Linked DNA regions of Homo sapiens: all the other regions are linked to region 2. Evidence: fine-mapped expression QTL. A gene starts in region 2. Each other region holds a variant in brackets. All regions are shown on one strand. Distances are between the middles of the regions.

Region 1 (5,000 bases), 83 kb after region 2:
AGAATGACATACATGCAGTTGTTTAATTAGAGTTGCGTAAGTGTTATGTAATAGAAGGACAGTATGCAATGGCCATATATGCATGTCCGTGTGTGTGTGTATATATATATGAGAACAGGAAAGGCTTTCCTAGGGAAGAGAGTTTAAGTTGGAAAAATTAACTCTCTTGTAAAAGAACATTTGTTTTCCTTTCAGAATTGTTTTAGAAAATAACTTCTGATAAAGTGGCATTTTTGTTAGCTTTCCAAACTACCTGCAGTTTTCCAGTGTAATCAGAGAAAATGCTGGTGAAGTATAAGAACTTGATCTCTCTGATGTGTTTGTTTCTTATTAAAGGACAGTGCAATTATCAATGAGGATAATTTGCCAATGTTCCATCGTTGTGGAATCATGGCACTGGTTGCAGCATACCTCAACTTTGTAAGTCAGATGATAGCTGTCCCTGCATTTTGCCAGCATGTTAGCAAGGTAATGTATTTAGAAAAGTCCTTAAACTTGAATTTTGTACAAAATTGCTAATTTTATTCCAGTGATGATTATTTTTAACTTTGGTGATTACGTATCAAATTAAGGTAATTCTATAAAAATCTACAGCCAGTAAACTGAAACTACAGCTAAAACTGTAGCTACTGTTTTTATATTTTCTTAGATGCATGTTGTTTTATTATAATAGTTTAATGTAGTGGTTGAATGGAATATGTGGTTTTCTTCTAGAATACCTTATGTGATTTATTCTATGACTTTTTTCCTTTGAACCCTTATGACTCTTAGTATGTAAATTTTCTTAAATTATACTCTTTTGTTGTTTATTCTAAACTACTTGAGGCAGATCTCAAAAGTTGAATAATTACTGTGCATCTCAGAGAATTGTCTTGTGTCTTTCAAATATATTTAGTTGTCTTTAGCAGTAACTCTTACATGGTTATTTGCATGACTTAATAAACATTTCAATGCCCCCAAGTTACCTAGCAGAAAAAGTCCACTTTTAAAGACATCTGTAAGAGAGAACTTTATTTTTCTTAAATTGGAAGCACATCATTTAGTCCTTGCTAAAATGTAGACTTGTAGTGTACTCTAAGAAACAAAACTCATCCATTCATTAATCAGACATTTGAGTGAATATTTGATGCCCACCACTAGAGAAGTAAATACTACAAAAGCAGAGTACCTCTTTGCTCACAGTTCATTGGAGGAGCCAGTCCACACAAGTGCCTGGAGACCTTGTACACAGGCTGCAAAAGGTAATGCAGCAGGTGGAGGATGGTGATTTGTAAAGCGATTTCCAAAATAGTGCATTTGAGAAAATAGATATTCTTGCTTTATTATAATAGGCTTAATCAAATGTAATGTGTCATCATTTTTTGCTTTATATATTATTTTATTGTCACAGTTTTATCTGTTAAATTTTAAAAATAATAGATGTGAAAACAAAACAAACTTTACATTTGGGCTGTAAACTTAGCTTAAATTCAAAAACAAAGTGATGTTATTTCTTATAAATGTTTAAAGTTGTTTTTTTTTAAGCTGTTTTCTGAATTTTTATAGCAAGGTACTGAGGGGTAGGGTTTTTGATTTTTGTTCTGTTTTTGAATATTTTTTAGGTTATTGAAATTCGAACTATGGAAGCCCCTTATTTTCTACCAGAGCATATCTTCAGAGATAAGTGCATGTATGTTAATTCTTTACATTTTAAGGATGGGGTACTGACTTGATAAACCCATCAGTAATAATTATAAAGGAGTAAATATTGTTACAATAATTCCTGGTGCTTTATACTAATCATCATTTTGTGTCTGTCATTTAATTCATTTAATTATTTCCCTTGTTATAAAAGGGCCTGCACATTATGGATGTTGACTTATGCACAACATGGAGTCAATCTTGAAAAAATTTTTTAAGAATAAGACTTGGCCAGGCGCAGTGGTTCACGCCTGTAATCCTAACACTTCGGGACGCTGAGGCGGGTGAATCACCTGAGGTCAGGAGTTTTAGACCAGCTTGGCCAACATGGTGAAACCCCGTCTCTACTAAAAAATACTAAAATTAGCTGGGTATGGTGGCATGTGCCTGTAGTCCCAGCTACTCAGGAGGCTGAGGCTGGAGAATCGCTTGATCCCAGGAGGTGGAGGTTGCAGTGAGCCAAGATCACACCACTGCACTCCAGCCTGGGTAAAAGAGCAGAGCGAGACTCCATCTCAAAAAAAAAAAAAAAAAAAGAATAAGAAAACTTACCCCACTTTTTAAAAACTGTTGGATATGTCTCTTAAATATAGCATATTTTATGTTCTCATATGTAAATGATCAAACCTTTAAGAGAGTACAGTATCCTGTTGAAGACGTTCAGTAATAGGTAACAATACTCAAAATATTGTGGAAGAAAGAATGTATTAAGGAAAATCCGTGTTATTTCCTGCATTATTTCTTGTTCTCTAAAGAAAAGTATATATATGAATAATATTTTGTTTGAACTTTTGGGCTATAAAAGCAGTTTATTTTGAAAGCATCAGC[A/G]TAAGATAATATCAAGCAGTTTGCAAGGAAAGTGAAACCTTATGTGGGTGGGCAAGTACTTCCTTACACTTAGCTGGCTAATGTGGTTTTCATTAACAATCAGTGGGCTAATGATTTTTTTTTTATTTTGTCTCTCAGTACACTTTTTAATTAACATGACAATAAAAGCTACATTTAGTGTTCTTTATTACTTAACAAGTAAAGATCAACAGAGTAATACAAGGCTGAATTCACTATTGGAATGTTACTGAGAGAAGAATCACTGCAGAATGGTTAATATATGGGACCACATACTGTGTGTTTTTAAAGAGCTCAAATTAGTTGCCTAAAATATACTGATTTTTCTGCTACTACAGTTTACATTGTGTTTATATTTAGAATATTGAGGCTTTTGCTCTGGAATGTTTTGCATAGTAACTTATTTTTGCTCAGTAATTTAATACTGAATGATTGTTGTTTTGATGAACTTCGCAGGCTTCCAAAATCTTTAGAGAAGCATGAAAAAGATTTGTACTTTCTGACCAACAAGATTGCAGAGTCGCTAGGTGGAAGTGGATATAGTGTTGAGAGATTGTCAGTTCCGTATGTACCACAAGTAACAGGTAAGAGGAGGATAATTAGAACTTTCACTCTGGTGATTGCTTATGTTATAGTAAATTTTTCATTACCCAGTTAACAATGAAAATTAATTCTGGTGTGTGTCCTTACTATAGCCCAGCCATTTTCAAATGCTTAAGAGTATTTACTTCTGTTTTTTAATTTTGCTATTGAAAACCTTCAGTAAATCTCTAACGACATAGATATGATTTTACCAGGAGCAAATCAAGTCCTTGAATATTTATTGTTACAATACTTAATATTTTATTTAATAGTATATTTTAAAGTGAGATCTTTTCTCATTAAATGATATTCTATTTAAGTTATGGAAATTGATGAAAATTGTTTAATGATAAGTGATTATTTAGGTTAATGAATTAGGCAACTTTCGTTATTTGAAAGAGTACAGACTTGTTATATAAATAAAACTACAAACTTTTTGAGTTAGGAATTTTTTTTTCTCTGTGAACTATATATTTTCTCTGTGAACTATATATTTTCCCATTGCTTGAAATAATTCTGTTTGAAGGCAAAATTGCATAGTGTCTTGTATTCAACTTTTACTGTAAAAATTAAAATCAAAGAATTTATGTCTTATGCTTTCATTTTAATTTGGTGACTATATAAATATTAAATTTTGTAAGTGAATTAGTTCTTTGGGGATACCTCTGTTCTACAAGAGAACCATTTGATTTCACTTAGAAAGATTTCTGGATTAGTCACTACAAGTAGTGCAGTCTTTGTAAATGGCTTTTTTTTAATAACATGGATCCAAAATATATACATTTAGTACAGTAATAGTTGTTCATAACAGTCTGAGATGTTAATGAGTGCTTTTGCATTTTCTTTTAAATTTTATGCTTTAAAAGATTGTGTTCCTCAGGAACTCCTTGAGGAAATAAAAGTGCTAAGAACAAAAGATTATTAGAGCTTTATAATTTAAAATATTAAAAAAACATTTAAAATATTTTACTCTTATAATTTGAATTTAGCTCTCTTTCCTTCAAGCAAAAAACCTCTTAAACCCAGGCACAAGCACAAAGGTAAATCCAGTTGTCAGTTTGGCCTGCCTTTTCCCTTACCTGTCCTCTAGGAAAATAGCTTAATAAAATGTGCCTTTTAGAAAATGGGGCCAGTGGCCTGCATATTTTCTATAATTAGTTTAATTATTATTTTCCTTTATCTTCCTTATAGCCCTAGTTTATTTTTACCCCTGTTATTTCTTTTTACCCTGTTCCTTTAACTCTTAACAATTTTTAATGAAAGCTCTGGTACTTTCAAAATTTTTAACAAATGGTCTGCACTTCCCTGATTCCTCCCATCCCTAAAAAAGATGTATTCTCTCATAATGCATCTCTACCAATGACTAGAAGAATTCTGAATATTTTAGTGTCTACTTAATTGTATAACTGCACTACTAGAAATCCTACTAGATTTTTCTGATTTGTGAAGACTGATAGTTTAGAACCTATCTGTGGCATTAGTATCCTACCTTAATGCAGAAACAGAATAAACAGTGATATTTTATGGGATACTGAATCTGTAATTAAATTTCCTTTTGCTGTGTAACCATCAGATATTCATTTAAAAAATTCAAGGGATTTAAGAACAATGTATTAAAATAAAAAGCAGAACATATTTAGTTTGTTGTGTGTCATGTAGTACCCATCATCATCACAATAGTAGCTACCATTTATTATGCACTGTGTGCTAGGCACTGTGATAAGTGCTTAGTATTCATTTTCTTATGTAATTCTCATAATGGTTTGGTGAGGAAGATAGCATTATCTTTGTTTACAAATGAGTATAGTGAGGCTAAAATTGAATTAAATGATTAGGTGACACCACTAACAGCCTCTCCAGTTAGTTGCTTAATAAATTATTTGATTTCACTA
Region 2 (5,268 bases):
CCGGGCGTGGTGGCTCACACCTGTCATCCCAGCACTTTGAGAGGCCGAGACAGGCAGATCACTTGAGGCTGGGAGTTTGAGACCAGCCTGGCCAACATGACAAAACCCCGTCTCTACTAAAATTACAAAAATTAGCCAGGCGTGGTGGCATGCACCTGTAGTTCCAGTTACTTGGGAGGCTGAGTTAGGAGAATTGTTTGAACCCAGGAGGTGGAGGCTGCAGTGAGGTGAGATTGCACCACTGCACTCCAGCCTAGGCGACAGAGTGAAACTCTGTCTCAAAAAAAAAAAAAAAAATCAAAAAGGAAGCGGGGGCTGGCTGTGGTGGATACACCGGCAGAACTCGGATCCAGAGGATAGGTTAGGGAAAGAGTATGGTAACATTGCTACCAATGTGCACAAACTAGGGAAAAAAAAAAAACCACGTAGGTACTGTATATATAATCAAAACATTATGACACTATTTTTCCTGACATTCAGCTGTCCTTCCTCAGAATCTTTGGCTGCTGATTTTTATTTCTGGCAACAATACAAAACCAAAAGACCAAGAGGATTAAAAACAGAAAGAAATGAAAAACAAACAAACAAAAAAACAACCAGTATGTGCAGGACAATTTCAGGGCCTTTGGGATCTGCATCTTTTTCAAGGTAATGTAAGCAGAGATGTCTGCCTTTTGGAGTCATGTCTTCCCTTGGCTCCTGGGGCACTGTATCCTGTGGATCTCGTCTCTCTGTGCCTTCACTGCCTCCACATCTTCCCTAAAAGGGCTCTCTTTGACACCCAGCTTCAGCTCCTGTCCCGGGACCAAAGATTTCCAAATCTCCCACCCTGAGGTCCCTCAGCCCACCTTCATCCTGGCTTGCCCAGCTGCCTTCAGATTCATTCACTCGGATGTCTCCCTCTGATACCACCTCAAGCTCAATATGTCAAGGAGAAACTCACACCTTTCTTCACACCCCTTCCCTAAAACAGCATTTCTTCCTGACTGGTCTACTGCTCTCCAGCACCACCACTTTCCTTGTTCCAACCTTGGAGTTACATAACTAACAGATGCCTCTCTATTGCTCCCAAGTCAGCAGCCAACAAATCCAGGGATTCTTTTCCAAAGTAAGATTCAGTTCTTTCTTTTTCCACAGCCACCACCAAGACTGAGCACCTAACACTCTCTCCTGTATTGGGGCCTTCCGATTTGGCTGCCTACCTCCACAGTTTCTCTGCCACACCATTCCCCCTGCAAGGCCCTGCTTCTGATAATTTAATGTTACTGTTATGCTTTTTGTAAAAATCACAGAACAGTTTCTTAAAAGACAAATTCCAAGGTTGAATGTAAAGTTGTTTATCAGTTTTATTTACCTGTTTTTGTTTTCATACTCTTGAATAAAATCCTTTATTTATATATTGAATTAATATACTCTGGCCCCCACCTGTGTGCCAGCCAAGGATACATAAACATGAACAGAATATGGCTTTTGCCATTTTCTGAAAAGCAAATAGGCCCATGGTAAAACACAAGCACTCATGACAGTTTATTTAGGATGCAGTGAGAAAAGTGCTGTAGCAGAGAGGAATCAAGATAATGCCAAAGTCTTAGGGAGAAAACTGGAAGCATGAAAGATTTTATAGGTGATAAAATATGCAACAGGGCATTAAAACATGAATAAGCACTAGGTAGTTTGGTCTTTACTGTTAGCAAGGGACAGTCTCTCTTTTTTTTTTTTTTTTTTTGAGATGGAGTCTTGCTCTGTAGCCCAGGCTAGAGTCCAGTGGCCCGATCTCGGCTCACTGCAAACTCCGTCTCCTGGGTTCAAGCGATTCTCCTTCCTCAGCTTCCCAAGTAGCTGAGTGAGAATATAGGCATGTGCCACCACCCCCGCCTAATTTTTGCATTTTCAGTACAGACAGGGTTTCGCCATGTTGGCCAGGCTGATCTCGAACTCCTGACCTCAGGTGATCTGCCCACCGCCCACCTCGGTCTCCCAAAGTGTTAGGATTACAGGCGTGAGCCACCGTTCCCAGCTGGACAGTCTCTTTTATAGGTACAGTACACACTCTCCTCTCCCCAGCTGCCATGACTCACTCTAAATTACCCTTCATCCTCTCCCCAGCCTCTTTTAGGACTCCCCTAGGCTTTGCTAATTCAAATTCTGCTTTCTTCCAAGTCCACCTCAAGCCAAGACTAATTTCTCCTCAGCGCTTCCTAGCTCTGATCTTCATGTTCTTCATCTTCTCCTCCCAGTACTGCACAATATCATTTCTTAATCAGAAGGTTAGCCCTACTTTTTAGGACAAAGGTTCTCAGTATTATCATTGTATTTAAATCATCTGTATATGTGTTCGTAGATTTGGCTCAGCACCTAGGAATCTGCTTTTCAACAAGTCCCCAGGGGATCCAAGCACAAAAGGATCCTGGACCACTTTGACCCACTTTGAGGAAGGCTGTGTTAAACCTCTGCGGTTGGCTTTTATATCTCCATATGGGCTGTCCGCAGCCCACGGCGCCTAGCATAGTGTAGGTGCGTTGCTCAGCTCTCTGGCTCCCGGTGTCTGCTCAGCTTGGTGACTATTAGATACCTCAATTATTAATGACACCCAGAGTCAAGAAGAGTAGCTCAGCCAAGTGCACAGAGCTGCCCTCTCCAGAGGAGACTAACTCCTGAGGGATAAGGTCGCTCTGAAAGTCACAAGAGCAAAAGGAAATTACATTTTCTGCCCTCTCAAAAAATGAGCAGCCATCACCCCAAATGACCTTAGTGCATCTCAAATAAACCATGCTTTCAGAGTATGCAAAACGCACTGCAAGTTAAACCGATTGCAAAAGAAAAAGCCCACAGGTACTCCGTGCGCTCAAAGCCATCATCCTCACAAACGTAAAGTGATGCACTCCAAATAGAGATCAAGGAAAACGAATGCCACGCAGGTCACCAGGCTTGGAAAATAGAAGGCACCCGAAGTTGTTCTACGTGGCTGTCCCCAGCCACCCATTCCACCCGCTCGACAAGGGATCCTGGGCCGAGCCCGGCCATCCGCGGGGGCGGGGCCGGGACGGCGGCGGCGCGCTGACGTAACGGGCGTGGGTCGTCCGTCGCGCCGCCCGGCGAGGAGTGGGCTGGCGGCGGTAGCTGTCGCCCGCTTGGTTGCGTGACCGCGGGGTCCGCGTCCGCTCCCTCCACCCTTCGCCCTTCGCCCTTCGCCTCGTTCCGGCCTCCGCGGCCCAGCAACGGCCGTCATGGTGCCGTCGGCGCTCCCTGCGCGGCCCCGCTGAGCCTCGGTGCGGCGGCGAGCGCGGTCGAGATCGCCATGCCTACCCGTGAGTGGCCGGCCGAGGGCCGGGGGCGTTGGGAGGCGACTGCCTGCGCGACGCGCTTGGGCCGGGTACTCCTCCCGGGCGGCTGGGGAGGCTGGGCCGCGCTGAGCAGAGCCAGGAAGTGTCTGCGAGCGGCGGAGTTAGTTTCGTTTCGGCTTAGCCTTCCGGAGATGGCGTGAGCCCGTTGCACGGATCGGGAAACTGAGGCCCGAACGTTAAGGGAACTGCGGGGACGCGCTGTTAGGAGGCGGCAGAGCTGGTGGTAACCTGACCCGTGGGATTTCAAAGTTAAAGCCCTTTTCCCACGGCCACACGGCTTCGTGGGACTTTATGGAAATATTGAAAATAACTGCGGTACCATTGTCAGTCCCTTCTCACCTCGGGCCGGACGTCGCTAGTGGACGCGCCGGCCCCGAGTCCCTTCCCGCGGCCGCCAGACAGACCCCCGACAGCCTAACTCGGCGTCCGTATCGCCGTCGGGGCGGCTGAAGTCGGAGCTTTCTGTGGAGCTTGTTAGGCAGAGGCACCTCGACTGTGGCTTTTGGACCACACTTCGGATTCACCCGGGCAGATGATTAAAAATGCCGGTTTCGGGACCCGCCCTATTCCCATGGAATTAGTCTGGAGCTTGGGCCCCGGAGTCTGCATGTCTAATAAGCGTCCCTGGGGTTACCAAGGCACCCCAAAGTTTAAAAGTCACTCGGTGTTGGAGGATTTTTAGACAGACGCGATACTACAAGTACTGCTAATGACCTATTTTAAAATGACCCAGATAATCGCAGTGTGACTTTATAGCCACTGGTCAATGTGGATATGTGCAAACTAGGGAAGCTCCTGATCTTGGGTAGAGAGGAAGCAACTTTGTCATTGATTTGAGAATTCAAGTAGGACTCCTTTGACTAAGTGTTCAATACTATAGAATCTTTACACACTTGTGAATATATTTCCTAGAATTCATAACTACTTCTAGTTGTCCTTGTTTTGTAGCCATCTGGGACGCTGAATTTCCAGGTCAGTCTCCAATGCACGTTTCGTCTAGTGGTGGGAAAAGATGAGTTATTTCTTGATATTATAAAGATTGATATTTTCCTGATATTTAAGGATATTAAATTTAAATTGATATTAAAGATATTTAAATATCTTTTTGAGATTTAAAGATTTTCCTGTGGCAAATCTTTACATAGTCCTGATGTAGAGATTACTTTTAACTCCTCATACATGTGTGGGTACTGTGGATTTTGTTTTCTTCACACACTACTGTGTGTCCTTAACTCACGTTCTTGGACTTCGCATCCAGTAAATATGTCCAGTTTAAATTTCTGTTTTATTCCTTTTGGCTGGAGGAATATCATTTACAATCATCTTCATTGTTATTGCCAGTTTAGTACTTCTAAATTCATGTTCACGTTATTCAGTGAATATCTGAGACTAGCACTATGCTAATCTTTTATTTTCTGAGAAACCAAAGGGGAGGAGGTAAGCACCTATTGAAAGTTGAGGCTTCAAGTAGAATTTATTGGTAACATGCCAGAATTATCCTGTGAAATAAAATTTTTAGTTATGTTCTAGGGTTATCTAGCTTCACAGAGTGGATATAGTAAACTCGTTTCTTTTCAAATGTTGAGTTCATTCTGCAAAATGATTTTAGGATGGGCCATGGTGGAGTTTACATAGTTAAGAATGCAGATTTCACACCCTGACTGGAAGACAAGTGAAATGTTTGTTTTATCTGTCATTGTTAATATTTGTCATGGTACATTTTTTATGACTGAATAAAAATGTGCTGTGGATTGATTGGGGGTACCAGTGTGAGGTGAATAGTGTTCATATTTGCCTTTTCTCTCCTTTGGCAGTCACAGCTGCCGAAATTGCTGGGATAGTGCAGTGGACAACAATATTTCTTTGAAATTCTGTTTGTAGAATATATATCCAACACAGAGATGGCAAAATTGTTATTCTCTGT
Region 3 (5,000 bases), 26 kb after region 2:
GAAATGGTTTTTAGCAAGAGCTTTTTTTAGGAACCATAACGTGTGTGCCAATCAGTTACCAGCTATCTGTTAATTTTTTGGCATTGAGTTTATTCATTTACAATTTACAACTTCTTTTGTCTCTTCACTTACTGGAAATTGAATTATCGTTTATTATTTTAGAAAAAAAACCAAAAAGTTAAAAAGTGAGAGTATAAAAAGATGAATGAGAAGAGCCCTTCCCTTATGAAACTACCCGGAAACAAGTTAAAGAACAGATATAGATGTGATGAACTGTGAAAGCCTTGCAAATTCCCATCCTTTTAGAACTTCCTGTTCATCATGATTTTGCAAGCATTGATAGTAATTCTGCAGCTATAATCTTAAAATTGTCTTCTGACAATGGAAAATAAAATCTGACAACTATAATTTTTTGAATTTTAGTCTTTCTAGTTTGGGAACTTCTTGAAGACATACATGTTGCATTCCTGGCACTTTGCGTGTAGTTAAGTACCTTATAAACCTAATTGATTGGTTGACTAGTCATGAAATACTTAAAATGTTCTTTGAATGTCTCTCCTGGAAGAATGCTTCAAATGTGGAACTTCTGTTACTGTGTGTATTATAAGAATAAGATAGTTGCCCAATTCTTGATCCTGTTAGAAGAAATCTCTGCTTTTCTTATACGTTCGACATTAAATGCTAAATGAAGGGTGGGGTTTCTGCAGACATTATACAATTTTTTTCTTCAGACATTTATCATCAGATTTTCCTTTTGTTGTTATTCTGATCAATTATTTTATCCTACAGCATTTACTAGAAATTATAAAATGTAATCTTAAATTCTGTATTTTAGATAGCAGACTTTTATCTTGCCAAAAGCTGATTAAAGTAGCAATAAATTAGTAAATCCTCATAAAGGAAATTTCTTATTACCTAAATAATAAGTTATAATCTTGTTGTAAACTATGTTATCAGTTTCTCCTTTTTCCATGTCAGATGTGGTCTATAGAACAATGATTTTCAGTCTGGATATTCTGAAACTGCCACTGTTGTGATTTATTTTGGTCACAATATTTAGTCCATCTTGAAATTTTAAATTACATTATTGTAAAATCATGTTTTCCTTTTTACTTGCATTTAAAATATTCTTAATTTCTTTTTCTGATGTTTCCTCATTACTGGAGCGTTTTTTTAAAGTCCATGTATCTTATCTCTATAATTGGTACCTTTGTAAAAAGTACAGTATTTGAAAAATTATTCTTTGCATTTTCTAACACAATCCTTTTGTAATTTTCTTTCTGTTTATTCAGAGGTCTTCTCTTTCTGCTCTTATTGTGCTGATCATCCCTTAAATGTTTTCTTACCTCAGGATTCTCTAAGTCTCCTATTTGCCTTCAGTGATCTCAGCAGATTTGCTTTTGCTATCACTTAAATGCTTTTGGTTTTTAAATTTGTTTCTAGTTTAGATCAATTGTCTGCTACAGGATATCCCACCTTCAAGTTTACCTCAAATTTAATATGTGCAAAACAGAATTCATTCTCTCTTCTTGATATCCTCCTTTTACCCCAGAGTGTATCCTCTTGTGTTCCTTGTTGGTCAGTGACACTAGCATCCAACCAGTTGTCCAAACTTTCCTGTCTCTTCCTCTTTACCTTCTATACTCAGTTGTTTCCAAGTCAGCTTCCTGCAAGTTTGCCTAGGCATTTTTCTCATGTTGCAGAACTTTATGCTTACTTTCAAATTAAAACCACATTGTTTAAACCTCTTAAGAGCCTTAATAGATGTGGCTCCCTTTGCCTGGGAATAATAATCCTCTCCTCTTTGCCTAATTTCTACTTTTTCTTCAAGACTTAATTTAGTCATTACTTCTTGCAGAAAGGTTTGTTATCCCATTAGCTATTATCTCATAGCAACCTGTGATAGTTGTTATCACAGAGATAATTCTTTCTGTATGTGATTATCTTTTCCCACCAGACTACGAGCTACTAAATGGCCAGGGATTGTGGCCTGTATTTGTATTCCCTACATTTAGTTTAGTGCCTAGGGCATGGTAGGCTTCACTAAATGATTGTTAAAAGAATACATGAGATTGGGTATTGTTTTTCCCATTTATGTATATTTCTGAGGCACATTTGTTTTTTGGTTTTCAGAGGGTAGCAGTTTCACCTGTGTCCCTCTCTGAGTTGAGAACCAACTGAAATACAGAAATATAAGAGTCAGTTTGAAGCAAG[T/A]CAAAATACCAGTTTTACTACTAGTAAAGCTGGGTTGGAGAATGCATCTTGATCTTTGTCCATTATCAGTCTTTCTGTTACTTTTCCTCCAAATCTAAACTTTCCAATGATGTATCTGAGGGACACCCCAAGTTAGCAGAGCAAACACATTGACCAAGCCTTTTGCAAGGAAGGCACATTGATTCAAACTGCCCTATAACTCCATGGAGATCATGTAAAGATACACACTTCCAGACCCAGGTATGCTTATAAGCAGGAAGAATGAATTGCAGACTGCACATCTGAAGGAGAAACTCTTAAGAGTTTGTTTATTCATTCATTTAACAAATAGATATTGAGCTCTTACCATGTGCTGGATGGACATTGTGCAGATGGTGCAGATATAGATTTGGTGCTTATGTTTTAGAGCCTACTAGGTTCCTTTTTTCCAGACTGACGAGTAAAATAAGTCACTTTTCCTCTTATAGCAGAAGTCTTCTCTAGGGAAGATAGGAACAGATGAATAGAATAGTTTATCCAAAGGTATAACCTGTTCTCTAGCCATTGCATGTAAAATAATTCCCAAGGACTGATAATTTTAAGAACACGGTGGAATGAAATACAGAGAAACATATCAGCACAATCTTAAGAGAAATTTCAAAGGTCTGGTCATGTTTTAGAAAAACGTGGAAAATTTGATCATGATAATTTCACTTTTCCTTTACTATACTTGAAATACTTGGCTTAGGATTTTAAAGACCATTTAGTCATGATTTATTTCTGACATGAGTCTGCTAAGTATTCATTTATACAAGTTACTTAGAAAATCTACTCCCTAATGAGGTCTGGTGGCAGCATTTGAAAATAATGGGGAAATTCTAGTGGTCTTAGCCACAAATACCAGCTCCCTGTTGCCAGTGATAGGTCTTTATCACATCAGCATCTCCTGTGAAGTCTTTTCTGAATGTCATAGCATTCATTATTTTTCTCACTCATTTGGTCTCCTGGTTCTTTATAGTGCTATTTATGATTCAGTTATTGTAATATATAAGATGATCTTACGAGGTGCAGCCTATATTATAACTTATCTATTGCATAACTTAGGTAAGGACAGTTTCCCGAATACCTGAAGTACACAATAAGAAAAAGTCATATGCTAAATTCTCTACATCATTATACAAGGGGAGTGGTTCTCTAGAGCAATGGCTCCCGAATGAACGTGGGTGTGCATGAGGGCCATGGTGGGAGGGGGAGGCTTATTTTTAGAAAGAAGAATTCTGGTATGCCATCCCAGGGATTGATTCAGAAAGTCCTGGGTTGGGGGCAGGGAGTATTCACTTTTAAAAGTAATCTAGGAGATTCTTCTTCAGAGGGCTCATAGGCCACCCTTAGAGAAGCATTGTACTATGGAAACATAGTTCGCTTTGATTGTATTTATTCCAAGGCAACCTTGTACAATTAAAGAATAAATACAAACAGTAAGAGAAGATTTTTATGAATGTTGATTTTGTTAGGGAGTTAGAAGTTGTGGTAATTGTTTCTTAGAGATGTGTTAATGTTAAACGTTTGATAGATAAATCAGTATAATTAGGTATATATAGTTATACCCCAAGACTGAGGGTAAATCCAGTCATTTTCTATTGTTACTATTTTGTTTGCATCTAGCTTTGTTTTTAGTAAAAGAACTATATATTTTGTTTTCTGTAATGTTGATTTCTTACAATCTCAATATATATTAGACTGCTTAATATCAGGAACCAGTTGTATGAATATTTGCAAATTTCACAATGCCTTATATGTAGTAGACATTTTATAAAACATTTTCATTACAAATGTTGAGTAAATGAGCTTTCTATAAAAATTGTTGCATTATTTGATACATGGTAAGTATTATAGTTATTATATATGAAAAAAAACCAGCTAACATCTTAGGGTTTTTCATTTGTTTTACTGGTCTTCTATGTTTCTTTTTGTCTTCATCTTTTTCTGCCCTGACTGGATTCTTGCTGCTTTTCTTCATTTTGCAGTTGTAGCTGAAAATTTGACTATTTGATACCTTTAGACATGTTCCAATACGCAGGAGAATAAGTAGGATTATCCTGGCTCCTGGTTTGCCTAGGATGGTCAAAGTTTATGCCACTGGTCCTGGCATAATTAATGATAGCACCCCCCAGCCACTCTCAAAATGCCAAATTATATAAATTCCTTTGAAGCTTGAAACCATGTAAATAAGTGATTTGCAAGTTGAGTTCTTGCCTTCACATATTCTTGCCACAATCCCATTTTTTGTTGTACTAATGTTATTGGTTCTTTCTGTATTTTGATTTCTAATTGTGAGCATTTTTGAGACCCCCTAATTTGAGGTGTCTTTATTTTTTATGAGAATTTTTCTGTTTTGTATGTGGAATTTTTAATTTACCTTAATAGTATTTTTAAACTACAGAAGATTTTAGTTGTCTCAAAATAATTTGTTCTTTTAAAATGGTTTAGAAATGAGTGACAGACAGTTCCTGGGCCATTAGCTTATGTTCAAGCATTGATATAACAAAAGCAGTTTTCAAAAAGACATTTAACAATGTTCCTTGGTGTTCCATGAATATTTATTCAGGTTGTTAGAAGTCCTTTACAGGAAATATTTAGCTTATAAATAGGCTAATAAAGGGGAAGCTGTAAGTTCAGTTTCTTTTGTCCTCTTGGCATTAAAGGAAGCTGTTACCAGAAACACAGATCTCAGTTTTTAAGGTAAAATACTCCTATACATGTTAGCTAGCTTTGTTACTTTGTGTATTTACCAAGATTTTCTCTAA
Region 4 (5,000 bases), 73 kb after region 2:
ACTTTATCCTTAGAGTTAATCATGTTGAAGACTCCTACCCAATTTTAAGTTAAAAAAAAATCAAAGCAATTCTAAAGCATATATTAGTTGCATTTCTTTCCTACTATTATTATTTTTAGGTCTTTAATAGTCGTTTGTCTAATTAACATCAGAGATAGTGGACTCAGTTGACCATATACTTGGGAGACAAAAATAAGAGTTTTTCCTTAGGACAGTGGTTCTTAACTTTGTTGAACGTTGAAATTACCTCAGGATCTTAGAAAAGTACTGATGCTTGGACTCCCACCCCCAGATATTCTGACTTAATTACTTTGGTATGTAACCTATGCATCAGCATGTTAAAAGCTCCCCTAGGTAATTATAATATGCAGCAAAGCTTGGGAACCACTGGATTAGAGGAAACTATTCCACGCATTTGAAAAGCATGAAGAATGACCTTGAATCAGAGATACAAATGTTGTTGAATACAGGGAAGTATGATAGTGCTTGCTAACTCCAAACTTTTACTGTAGTTAGGTGCTGTGGTAAAGAGAAGTGCAGGGTACTTTATGTCCTTGTGGTAATAACTAAGTTGTTTGAAACAGAAGGTCAGTGTCCAGTTTTCTGCAAGACTAGGAATGTATCTAGTTGTATGGAAGAAGTATAGAATAATAATAGCATAAGCTTTGGAAATAAATAACCCTTACCTCAGGCCCTAATGTTAGCTGTGTAATTTTTTGGTAAGAGTTCTTGACTTCTCTTATCCTCATTTCCATAAGAGGAAACTGAGACAAATAATAGAACCTAGACTCAAAAGGTTATTTTGCGGATCCAAATACAAAATAGTTTCTTATTCCATAAATATGTATTCCGTAAGTGTTAACAACAATATACTTTATGGAGATGGAGTCATGTTAAGGTTATGAGATTTTTGACTGCTAATGTACGTGATTGTGGGAAATGACTTTTACCCCTAAGTCCAATCAAAATGATGAATAGAACAGTTTGAGTTTATATAAACACATCATTAACTCCAGTAATAGAAGCTCAACAGTTACATTGAAAAGTCAGCTTATTCTTAAAAAATACTAAAAATGCAGAAAGTTTCTGTAATGACTACATTGAATTTTAAGAAAGGAACATAACAGCCATGATTTGATAGTCTGTTCCAATCTTTCAAAGAAATAAGAAACTTTTAAAGTGTGAGTAATTGATAATTAAAGGTTATAAATCTTTTGTGACCAGGAAGTAAGTATCAAAAGCTACAGCAGATAAATTTAAAATATTCTCAGAAACTAGACTGCATAAGAAAAATGACAAGTAAGTTATTTACTTATTTTTTACATCAGTTGAATTATGTATGTTGAATTAATTCACAGGGGTAAACTATAAACTTGGCTTATTACAATGACATTCAAATATTTGAGAAATCCTGGAAAACCAGAGTAGTGACTAATTATTAACTTCTTTACCAGACAATGTGTGGCCTGATTACCGGAACAAAAATTTAGGCTTACGATGTGTGAACTAGAATTTCATCAGAAATACTACCAAAATATTTTTCCTTCTTTTTTTTTTCCTATTTTTTTTTTTTTTTTTTTTGGAGACAGAGTTTTGCTCTTGTTGCCCAGGCTGGAGTGCAGTGGCACGATCTTGGCTCACCGCGACCTCCACCTCCCAGGTTCAAGCAATTCTCCTGCCTCAACCTCCTGAGTAGCTGGGATTACAGGCATGTGCCACCACGCCCAGCTAATTTTGTATTTTTAGTAGAGACGAGGTTTCACCATGTTGGTCCGGCTGGTCTCGAACTCCCAACCTCAGGTGATCCGCACACCTCGGCCTCCCAAAGTGTTGGGATTATGGGCATGAGCCACTACACCCGGCCAATATTTTTCCTTTTTCTAAAACTCCAGTCAACTCAAGTCAGTCCCGGTTTGTCACTGTTATAATTATATAAAAAAAGACTTTGATATATTTATCATTTTATCTACCAGTCCATTATACACAGTTTATATTGTACATAACTAAATGATTTTGTACAAATGAAATTGTAATATCCTTTAATGTTACATGTAGCTTACAGACTTGTGAGGGATTGTTTTACCACATATTGAAAACTTTGGCTAAAAATAATTTTGTATTATATGGAAAAGTAGACTTTTTCAGTTTCTAAAATTTGTCTTAATACTTTCATAGGATTTTTTGGAAGTAACCTACCAGATTATCAGAGGTCAGAAATCATGATGTTCATTATGGGGAAAGTACCTGTCTTTGGAACATCTACCCATACTTTGGATATCAGTCAACTAGGGTATGTTCTCAGACTGTAAATTTGAACTTAATCTTGAGTTACATTTTATCCTAACGAAATCTAGAAAATGTTAACGTTTTGTTTTTTTTTAAAAATCATTAGTAATAGCATTCCTATGGAAAGCAGTTAGTATTATTATGACAGTAGATTGCTAAGCAATTGAATTAGCATTTTTAGGCCTTTAGAATCATTTTCAGCTTATAAATTCTCAGATATTTCCATCTTTAGAAATTGTTTGGCCTGGACATTGTGTGTGTGCATACACATTTAGGGTAAAGCTTCAAGTTTCCTGTATAAATTTTAAACATTAATGTCAATATATCAGAA[A/T]TATTGGCTTATTCCTAGAATTTTAGAACTGAAAGTAATTTTAAAGATTATGTGACCCCCTTATTTTATACATTTAATTGGATTTTATAATATGCTGAAGTTTTTGTTTGTGAATGTTGTTTTGTTAATTTAATAAGGAAGTAATAGTATCTTATTCGACTTACATTTCTTTGACCATAATTTGTTATTTTTTAAAATTGTTCTTACCTGTTTATTCATATTTGTTAAAGAAAGATTATATTCATCAACTATGTAGTAATTATTTTCTCCAATTTAAGGTACCTTAATTTGGGTTGTTTAGTTGTCTGTTTATATGATTTAATTTTCTTGTCATCAGATGCATAGGACTGTTTGAGAGCCAATAACAAATTTTTTGTTTGATATTTTTAAATATAATAGTTTTAATTCACGTGAAATTTTACTTTGGCATGTGAAGTGAGCCATGACTTAAACTGTTACAAAAATAAAATCTATTTAGCCAATAAGAATAGAATTTTAAAATCAGTAATTGAAGTAAATGAAGTAATATAAATGCTAATTAGTATAATAATTCAGCCTTTTGTATATTTTAGGGATTTGGGAACCAGGAGAATTCAGATAATGTTGCTGAGATCTTTGCTTATGGTAAGGCATTTAAGACAAATAAAGGACACACTTAACCTTAAATTACTGAAAACATTAATTGAATAGCTTCATGTTACAACCGTTCTTTCTTAAGTAAGTTACTGTTTATGGTTAGTATTTTATTATGTTCTTCATTTTAAAGATTATCCAATTTTTTTACCGTTTATTTCTCACTTCTTCTGTCACTGTCTTTGATCTTCATAATGATGAAACATACAGAGGGCAGAAACTATTGCTGTCTTATAGACGAAGATACCTGGGCCCAGAGACTGTGAGTGGAAGGAGTTGATAAGGTCCACCAAAGTCACTGGGCTAAAAAACAGAACTCAGACTTGAAATCCAAAGTTCTTTCAACATATTATGCTAATTCTTTCTCATACTGACCAAATAATTGCTTCTGATTGGGAAAATAATTCATTAAAATGAATATTTGCCATTTAAAATTTGAAGTGGCTATAAGTAGCTGAAAAGGAAAAGTATACCCAGAATGAAAGGTCCTCTGGTTATTGTCTAGCAATTGTACTCATATTTGATTCAGCCATTGCTAGCACATATGCGTCCTCTCAAAATCAGTATCTTTCAGATTTATCCTAGAAATGTTTACTATACATGATCTAATTTTTTAAACAGACTCTCTCAAGTGCAGAAATACCTTGTGTGGTTGTATTTTTAATTTTTTTTAATTCTGTTTATGGCGCTTGTCATTTAGAAGTTTTGAATTCTAATATAGCCAGATTTATCAGTTTTTTCTATATGTTTTGCACTTTTTCATTTGTATCTTATATAAGAACTCCATTCCTCCTCTGATGATATAAACACATTTGTTTGTATTTTCTTATAGCAGTTTTAAAATTTTAGCTCTCTACATTTAGAACTTTAATCTGAAGTTTATGTTTATATGTGGTATGAGGCATGGATTTTCCCAGATGGGTAGACAGTTGTCCCACCAGTTTCCCAGCTGACTTATAAAACTATCTCCATCCTATAATAAATGCCCAAATGTAAATGTTAAGTATTCCATACATGTTTATAATCCTGAAAATATGTTGAGATCTCCCACCTGCAATTTAATTTGATCCTAAGCCTTTATTTATATTAAACAAATTCCCTAAGTAAATTATTTTGCCTTGCCTTTCTGATTATACCATATAGTCAACTGAATATATGTTATGCTTAAAATGTTTAATAGCATTTAAGTATATTCTCTTTAAAAGTTTTATGTTTAGAAGATATTGACGTACTCTTAAATGTCAAATCAAGTAACTAAGTACAGCTTTCCAAAATGAAAATGTATTCCTATTAACCAACTGCCTAATTTAAAATGAAAGAATAATTTGCAAACTTAAATTTAAAATTTGCAGGTCTTACTTTTACTCTTTGTCACCTAAGCTCCTTATATCTGTTTTGTACTAACCTTAACCTCTCTGTGCCTCAGTTTCTCCTTATGAATGGCGATTCACTAGTGTCTACCTTACAGGGATATGGTGAGGACAAAGTTAATACATATGCAGTGCTTAGAATCATGCCTAACACATGGTAAATGTGTGCTATTATTAACTTTATTTTTCTTATGAATGATGTTTTTGTAAATTCAGCAAAATCCTTCATTACTTTGCACATTTCTTTTATGTCTTTTCTCCAGGCTTCTGTCCATATTTTCTTTCCTAAGTTTATGGTTCTTATAAAAGAATATGAGAATTTTACAAAAAAAGGACTCATGACAAAAGGTTGTTTGTTTTCTTCTCGATAATCAGGTGAC

Alleles and levels. Alleles are on the strand shown, and positions count from the first base shown. SD is a standard deviation of normalised expression in the study named. Not every link is listed here.
As copies of A replace T in region 4, the expression in transverse colon of the gene that starts at base 3,079 in region 2 goes down (small effect, 0.24 SD a copy in GTEx).

The links. PIP is the estimated chance that this variant, and not a neighbour inherited with it, causes the effect.
Region 1: its variant is the best candidate, but not a certain one, in a credible set for the expression of EFR3A in monocytes (TOPMed, PIP 0.85).
Region 3: its variant is the best candidate, but not a certain one, in a credible set for the expression of EFR3A in whole blood (TOPMed, PIP 0.71).
Region 4: its variant is the best candidate, but not a certain one, in a credible set for the expression of EFR3A in transverse colon (GTEx, PIP 0.51).

What each region holds. Positions count from the first base shown.
Region 1 is chr8:131,984,593-131,989,592 of GRCh38, forward strand. It overlaps EFR3A (EFR3 homolog A), which reads left to right. Exons shown (of 23, transcript NM_015137.6): 16 at 337-468; 17 at 1,602-1,669; 18 at 2,983-3,110. Among named protein-coding and RNA genes, the nearest start is that of OC90, 72 kb to the right of the region's middle. The variant A/G (reference allele first, on the strand shown) is at 2,509.
Region 2 is chr8:131,901,015-131,906,282 of GRCh38, forward strand. It overlaps EFR3A (EFR3 homolog A), which reads left to right and starts at 3,079. Exons shown (of 23, transcript NM_015137.6): 1 at 3,079-3,308. The coding sequence starts at 3,299. RefSeq lists a silencer at 2,976-3,455 and an enhancer at 4,026-4,075.
Region 3 is chr8:131,927,638-131,932,637 of GRCh38, forward strand. The region is part of intron 1 of EFR3A (EFR3 homolog A); the gene reads left to right. Among named protein-coding and RNA genes, the nearest start is that of EFR3A, 26 kb to the left of the region's middle. The variant T/A (reference allele first, on the strand shown) is at 2,215.
Region 4 is chr8:131,973,852-131,978,851 of GRCh38, forward strand. EFR3A (EFR3 homolog A) reads left to right here. Exons shown (of 23, transcript NM_015137.6): 11 at 2,176-2,290; 12 at 3,190-3,241; 13 at 4,996-5,000. Among named protein-coding and RNA genes, the nearest start is that of EFR3A, 72 kb to the left of the region's middle. The variant A/T (reference allele first, on the strand shown) is at 2,618.